2 linked regions of the Homo sapiens genome follow. The protein of the gene in region 2 interacts with the protein of the main gene of each other region in a pairwise test. Each region holds a gene or a part of one and is shown on either strand. Other genes may lie near its edges. The genes, in order: RNF24 and TRPC6.

Evidence for each region.
Region 1: the proteins of TRPC6 (region 2) and RNF24 interact in a two-hybrid assay, tested with the Homo sapiens proteins (one study listed by BioGRID).

Annotation. Positions count from the first base shown.
Region 1 is NC_000020.11:3,931,671-3,935,789, reverse strand, and holds part of RNF24 (RING finger protein 24), read left to right. Parts: intron 1-716; coding exon 717-796; intron 797-1,588; coding exon 1,589-1,727; 3' UTR 1,728-4,119. UniProt on the Homo sapiens protein: May play a role in TRPCs intracellular trafficking.
Region 2 is NC_000011.10:101,581,985-101,585,584, forward strand, and holds the start of TRPC6 (short transient receptor potential channel 6), read right to left. Parts: upstream 2,024-3,600; 5' UTR 1,520-2,023; coding exon 1,350-1,519; intron 1,284-1,349; exon of another isoform or gene 1,191-1,283; intron 1-1,190. UniProt on the Homo sapiens protein: Forms a receptor-activated non-selective calcium permeant cation channel. Probably is operated by a phosphatidylinositol second messenger system activated by receptor tyrosine kinases or G-protein coupled receptors.

The sequences.
Region 1 (4,119 bases), on a different chromosome or scaffold from region 2:
AGTGTGGTGACACATGGTATCCACGGGCCCTGGTGAATGCCCAGGAAAGTGTTGGAACCCAGCCCCTGGGTACGATGGCAAAGGCCTCTCTCCAAGCCATGGAGACTAGTCATTGGCTGAGAGCAGTCCTGGTCCCATCTGCACATGTTCATGAGTTAACTGAGTCTTCAGTAACTTTTTATATGACAGAGACACTGACAGAAGGACAGTGCCAAAGTGGGAGGCCCCAGGAACTATAAATAGCATGTTACTGCAAGCTGTGCATAAAAACAGGAGAAAAGATTGCCAGGGCTTGAGCGGTCCCTTTCAGTGAGTGCTTGGGAGCCAGGCTGTGCTGCTGACAAGGTGGAGAACCCAGAGAGCCTCAGCTCTTTCGGCACACCAGGAAAGGGACAGCAGGCTAAGCTGGCAGATGTGAGAGTAACCCTCCCTCGGTCCCACACTTCTGATGCACTGAAGTAAAGGCAGCTGCCTCTTGCTTTCTGTCTTCTCCCATCTGCCCACCTCCTTGAAGATATGGGACAGGAAGAGCAGGAGACATTCATCTATTTTGGCCTGTTTCTTTTCAGTCATTTATTCATTCATTTCTTTTTTTTTTAAGATAAGAGTCTCATGAGTCCCTTCAAACGGTTGAGCCTTTAGGAGCCTGCACTCTACTTTGTACCTGGGAGGGTACTTAACAGACACTTGGCTTCATTTGTGCATTTGTCTTTCAGCTCTGTGCAGTGTGCCTAGAAGACTTCAAGCCTCGAGATGAGTTGGGGATTTGCCCATGTAAGCACGCCTTCCACAGAAAGTAAGTATTGGTATGGAATTACTTAATGGGACCCGAGTTTGAGGCACATCAACCAACTTCTTTTGGGTTTTAGGGCAGTGCCAGACAAGCTTGATGGCTTCATGATTGGTCTGTAATGCAGAAAGCTGACAGCACCCTACAGGTGGGATGTGTGTGTGTGTGCGTGACATTAGGAGACAGCAGAGTGGTGGAACGTGACCACCACGTCAGGACTATGGGCAGAGAGCCAAAATGAGCCTACACTTGGAGCCCAAGCAATAAACAGCTATTTAGCTGGAACTTTCCACTGAGAGCCTCATCTCCTAAAAACTTATTTAAATCAAAACCATAGTTATTTAAAATCAAAATAAAGTCTGGATATAAATGGTAGTGTGGGGCACTCTCCTCCCACTTCCTGCAGACATATTAATATTCTTCCTCTTATAATTTTTTGTTTTGTATTTCTGTTAGAAAAATTTATTTTCCTACTTCTCACATCCCTGCTCAGTGTATTTTGTTCTTGTAAGAAGTCATGGGTAACTGAGAGTATCACATACTATCTGTGGCTTCACACGTGGAAGATGGGAGGCTCTGGAAGGAAGAGGGGATTGCTGACCCCTTGGCCTCTCCCCACTCCTTCTCTCTGTCTCTTCCCTCTCTCCAGGGGGTGACATCCGTTCACCACCTAGGAGGGGAGCTCCTTGGACCATACAGCAGACGTTGTCTGGGTGACAGATATGGAGATGTTCAGCAGAACAGCCGTGCCATGAGCATAGGACTGACATCTTCCCCCTGTGGTGTCTCCTTCTGCAGGTGCCTTATTAAGTGGCTGGAGGTTCGTAAAGTGTGTCCCCTGTGCAACATGCCAGTTCTACAGCTGGCCCAGTTGCACAGTAAGCAGGACCGTGGACCCCCTCAGGGGCCCCTTCCTGGGGCAGAGAACATTGTATAGCTTACCGCAAGGATCAGACTGTTGCTGGACACGACGTCTGTGTGGAGCCAGGAGGAACACATGTGGTGTCTGTATGGCTGCTCTCTACCTAGGACACCAGCTGCCACTTCTTTTGCCTCATGAAGAACTCTTGGGCCAGCCAAACTGGGAACCTAGGTGTCTGGGTCTTGTGACAACCAAAGCACTTTGACACTACCCCCTGCCGAGAGAAGAGGAGTGGATGAGCCTGCGGGTTTGCCTCAAGAAACTTCATGAGGGTCTCTTACTAACTCCATTACACTCTCTCTCCTGGAGCCTCATCTCCATGTCAAGCAGGAGGGTAAAGAAGGGAACTAAGAGCAGGTCTTTCAAGCCACACCCCCACCTGCGGATGGATGGGTTTCTCTGTAGGCCATGCAGGCCTTTGTCGCAGCAAACCTTCCCAGCAGCCCTTGAGCCAAGTAAAACCAGCACAACCAGCCACCAGTGGTTGGTGAGGCAGTGCCCACAAGGCTCATGTTGTATGCCTTTGATAAGGCCATCTTGGCTTTGAGTAGCAGTGTTCCTCGTCACCCATTTCCCCCTCAGGATTACAACACCTGCTATCAAATCATCTAAGCTGAAAACATGAGATGCGCTTGGAAAGGCCTAGTCAGAAGCCATTTCCTCTTATCATTTCCCTCTCCTATGCACCAGTAAGGCCCGTCCAGAGCCCCAGCAGGGAGTGGGCCCTGAGTCCACACTGTCCCTGAGTGATCCAGGAGGCTGCCCACATCCCCACATGTGCACTGTGGTTCCAGTGTAGCTGCTGTGAGCCCACTGCCACTGCCTCAGAAGGGAGCCACTGTGAACCTCTCGAGTGGCTCCAAAGAGCAGTGGCTTTTTGAGAATGGCCCATACTTCTGGCCCGGCTGGATGAAGGGAATGCCGACCCTTTGGCCTCTCCCCCTCCTTCCATCTCTTCTCTCTCTTGCCCTATCTCTCTTTCTACTTCAGAAAAAAAAAAAAAAAAAAAAAAAAGCCTGTCATTCACTTTTTAACACTTTATCCCAAATAAGATCCCTGTGTAATTCTGAAGCTGGTGATCCACTTGGAATTGTAGATAGTTTCAGGAAGCTCCTGCAGGGCTGTCCACCGTTGGTGTGTGCCTCAGTATTTGGACTTCCGAAACTGAAAGTGAAAGTGTCTTTATAGGAGAGAAACGCATGCTGCTCTTTGGCTCTTTCTGTCCAACTTTTCTAGAAATGACTCAAAGTCCATTAAGATTTGTGAATATTGTATAAATTAGCTATGGAAAGTAGCAGGTCAGATGGAAAATTCTTTTCCACAGCCCTGCTCTCCGCCTCCCTCCATCTTAGGAGCGCCTGCCTCAATTCCTCGTCAACTGCTTTGCTCCACTCCATCCCACAGGTGTGAGTGGGGGAAGTTTTTCATTAGGAATACAGTCTGCGTGACATGGAGAATGGATGGAGGGAGCTTTGCTACTCTGCTCTTGGCATGACTCCAGGATTTTTTTCTGGAATCCAACCTCTGTCCTCTTAGGAGAAGGAACCTGTCCTTGGTTCAGATGGCTGGGCATGAGGAGGAAAATTTCCATTAGTGTAGAACAGTGCTGGACAGAATCCGGTTTGGAAAATTACAAATCCAGTTGGTCAAAATAGGCCATTTCCTATGTGTGACCTATTCGTGGTATGCCAACTGGACTGCTTCCTAAACAGGACGAGGAAAGTGAGGAATATTTTTATATGAAAGCCTTAGCCTGTCTGGCACCCATGAAAAAAACTATTTATGCACTCCTACTTTCACCGTCTTTTTGCATTCTCTATTTGTAGCACAACAGAGTTGAATGCCACAAAACACCCCGTTTATAGTGAGCTGTTTTCAGTGACCAATATCAGAAGGAGGCTTGCTTCTGGACTAGCCTCACTAATTGCCAGCAGCCACCATTTTCCATGGAATGGCCTTGGGACAGATGTCACCTCTGTTATGGGGCTCTAATAGGAAAGAGAATGTTTTTTCCCTTCCTATGATCAATACTGCAAATTATTGCTGCTCACAGCTTTTATAGGATTCTCCCAACTGAAAGTTGCAGGCTTTTTCTGTCCCTGTGCATCAGTACTAACAAAAGACAGCCTCACCAAGTCTGTATATTTGAACAGAGGCAAGTTAATTCATCCCCCCGTGTCAGAGCCACAGGCATGTTGAGGGGGTTGATACGTAGCACTGGACCAGGGCGCAAAGCCCAGATAGTTCCAGCCATGAGAGGAGAGCACAAGAATGCTCTGCACTCTGCACTCAGCACCACCTTGGGTCTGCTTTGCCCAGATGAGGGACCACTAACAACCTTCTCAGCACATGTGAATGTGGACTGGTTTTAAAATGCATTCATTCTGCTAGGATTGGGCTGGAAGCT
Region 2 (3,600 bases):
TGAAATTGTCCTGGAATTAGATATTAGTGGTGGCTGTACAACTTTATGGATATATTAAAAATAGTGCATTGTACAAGTTAAATGGGGGAATTACGTGGTATGGGAATTATGTCTTGAACTTTTAAAAAGAAAAACATATACATAATTGTAAATGCTCTTAACTTGCACAGCACACAGATGAATGAAACCAGTTCTAACTATTCTCCTTTATCTTTGAGAAAAGTTAGATGCTCCCTTTACTGCGGCTCACCTCTTACTTCGAAAGGGCACCGCAGCAGGGCTTGAGGCTGGGCAGCCCTGACACAGCACCCATCTATCAGGAGGGTCTGCCAGGCGCCTATGGGGTGGAATCCTCCCTCCAACTAAAGCTGTTTATAGAGCTGAGAACCTCGGGAAACCGCTTGCGGGTGGATGTGACAAGTCAGGAAACTTGACTACCCAATCACCCAAAGGGGCAATGGGACAGAAATGCTATCTGCCCGCTGCACATGTGGTCACAGCGGTGTCGGGGAAGCGGAGTCTTTTCTTCTGGAGTCCACTCTGCTTACTCCCTACCTCCCCTCCCGCCACCCACCCAGCTAAAAAAAAAAATACCCTAGATTCATAAACAAAAGCTTGCAGTTACCCACAGCCCAATACAAACGACCCGACGCCCTCACTTCTATAGCCCGTGAGTCTCCCAGCCCCTAACAGGCTCGTCTCCCCAGACGCCCCGGGTGAAAAGGTTCGCGCCGCCGGTGGAGAGTCCTATTGGTTCTATTTCTGTCTTCACTCCAAGGCCCCAGGACCGGGGAGAGGTCCTGGTCTAACTTTGGCTGTCCCACGGTCCAAGGACCTCAGCGCTCAGCCCGAAACGCTAAGCCAAGCGTGGAGACCGCCGGGCGCACCCAGCACCCAGGCAGCTCCAACCCTTGGAGTTCTAGTCATCTCTCCCCCACATAGGCTAAGAGTCACCCGGGCGCACATCTGAATCAGCCCCCTGTTCAGATCCCGCCTGTTACGTAGCGATCCTGTCTCTTGTAGAGCGCAGGATGAAGGGGTCTGGAGAAATCGACCACCCATCTAATCACCTGCAATGGTGGTGTTACTATGCGGTCTCACTCTCGTGGGCAAACATATCCATGCGTACCTACGAGGAGCAAACCTAGACAACCCCGCCTCCCCCACTCCCCGCGCGCCCCTCCACTCACTCAGGTCCCAGCCCTGGCTCTCGCGGACCTCCCAGCACCGTCCTAGGAGGTACACACGCGGGTTCAGGACGCGCGCGGACGGACTCGGCCACTCCTGCGAGCGCACAACCTCCCTCCGCGCAGCCCGCGCCCGATCCGCCCCGCGTCGCCGGCACTCACAAGCAGGGGTAGTAGCCGTAGCAAGGCAGCGGGGCTTGCGGGCAGCCGTCTTCTCCCAGCTCCGAGTCCATGAGCAGATAGTCCTGGCTCTCGTTGCGCCGCGCAGCGGCTCCGGCAGCGCCCCGGGGAGAACTGCCCCTCCGGGGCCCGAACGCCGGGCTCTGGCTCATGGCGGGAACGCCCGACTGGCCTGGGCCCCGCTCCCGGGGGAGCCGAGTGGGCAGTTCCAGCGGGGACCCGGTGCGGAGGGTTCGCGTCAGCGGCCGAACTGGACCTGGGCAGACCGGTGCCCAGGGGACGACGGTGAAGCAGGGGGTGCAGACGCCCGCCGCAAGTGGCTCGCCCACTGGCCCGGGGAAAAGTCACCACTTAAGGGGGTGCAAAGAGGATCTTGACCTGAGCAGGTCAGGCCGAGGAGACCCCGCGAGGATGCGTCTGGGGCGCCCGGGCAGAGAGGGCACAGGCGGGGCCGCTGGTGGTAGCGAAGCGTAAGAGCGGAGAGCAAGGGAGACGGAGCTGAAGAGTTACTATGTCAACAGAGACTCTCCAGCCCTCAGCTCCCGCCTTCATCCCCCGCACTCTCCGTCAAGATCCCCACCTTTAAAGGGATCCGAGCGACGTTCTAGAAAGCAGCCAAAGCCTGTCCTGTAGCCACAACTTTCAGGAGGCGGTATGAGCCTGAACTAGGAGGAGCCAGGCACGCACTCTTTTTTTCCCCTCCACTATTTAGTTGGCTCATTTAGTAAGGATACCAACTGCGGACTTCGTAGGAAGCTTCCTTTAAGAACCACTCTCAAAGAGCCAAGGAAACCTGTTCCTTAAAAGGGACACGAGCCTCTTCTTTCTCCAGACTGCCTTCATTTTCTTTGGTCATTTTCTCTCTTACCCTCAACTCATAAAGTTATTATGACTCTGCTTTAAAAATGAACAACGTTCTATGTTCCAAACGCCAGATGTTCCCAGTTCCTGAGAAAACCAACAAAAATAGGCAAGCATTTTCCAATGATACCGATAAAGAGGCCAACAACCTGCTTACTTCAGAGAAAAAATTTTCCTTCCGTCACTGCGAATGCAAGAATGATTTCTCTGCCAGATGTTTCCCACGTTTCCAAGCTGTTTTATTTTTAAGACTTAGTTTTAAATTCTGATTAATATGCATACGTGTGAGAAGTAAAAACTTGTCAACAAGGATGAATCAGTATTTGTAGACCTTTAAGCAGTAGTAGCCAATTAAGAATCCATTCATTAAGTCAACAAATATTTAATGAATGCCAACTGCGTTTCAAATCATTTCAGAATTCGGAGGCAAAGAAGCAGATGAGGCACCTGTCTGCCCTCATAGAGCTTTCGTGGCAGAAAGGGGGACCAATTAAATAAGCAAATGAAAAAATATCAAGGACAAATGCTACAATGAAAATAAAACAGGTTGATGTGATGGCAGCTGGTGAATGACTACTTCAGATGAGATGGTTAAAAGAGGCCCCTCCAAGGAGGTGCTCGTTAAGTTGAGACATGCATGGCAAGCAGCCAGCCATGAAAAGATCAGAGGCCCATTGCAATTGGATGAAAGAAAGCCAGACTGAAATCTGTCTGCAAAGGTGCCTTTGCTTCCCATGAACAGGTGGACAACAAAATGAATGTTGGAAGTGTGGGAAAATGCAATTGATTTGATAGAAGGGAAAAGAGCTCACACATTTAGAAACTTCTGAGTTTGCCTTTAAATTTAGAACTGAAACTCAGAGAGAGCAGAAACCACTGTGTCCTGAGGATCCAGCTTCGTATTTGACACAGGTGTGTAGGGTGCATGCATGCATGCTTGGGTGGGTGAGTGGGTGGGTGGGTGGATGGATGGATGGATGGACGGATGGATGGATGGATGGATGGAAGGAATATAGAAAAAATAAGAAAATGCTCTTGGCCCTGGAAAGAACATTTTCCCTGGGGAAACAAACAACCTGCATCATTCTGAAGTCTGTTCTTTCTGATTTAACAGCCTTCCTTTTTGATCTTTCAACATGTGGAGCCATGATTTAAAATTCTTATAATTTTCTAGTTACTATACCTAGCAATAAGATATTCTTCCTAAAATTTGTTTGTGGCAACTGCTATCTGTAAGTATTCATTAGCTTTGATGCTTGAATGAATTAATCAATAAACGTTTAGTTAAACAGTGCCAAGGTAATCTCTTTGGCAACACCAAGTATGGGGAAAACATTCATGGGAAAAGTAATATTCAAAGGTTTTCTACCCA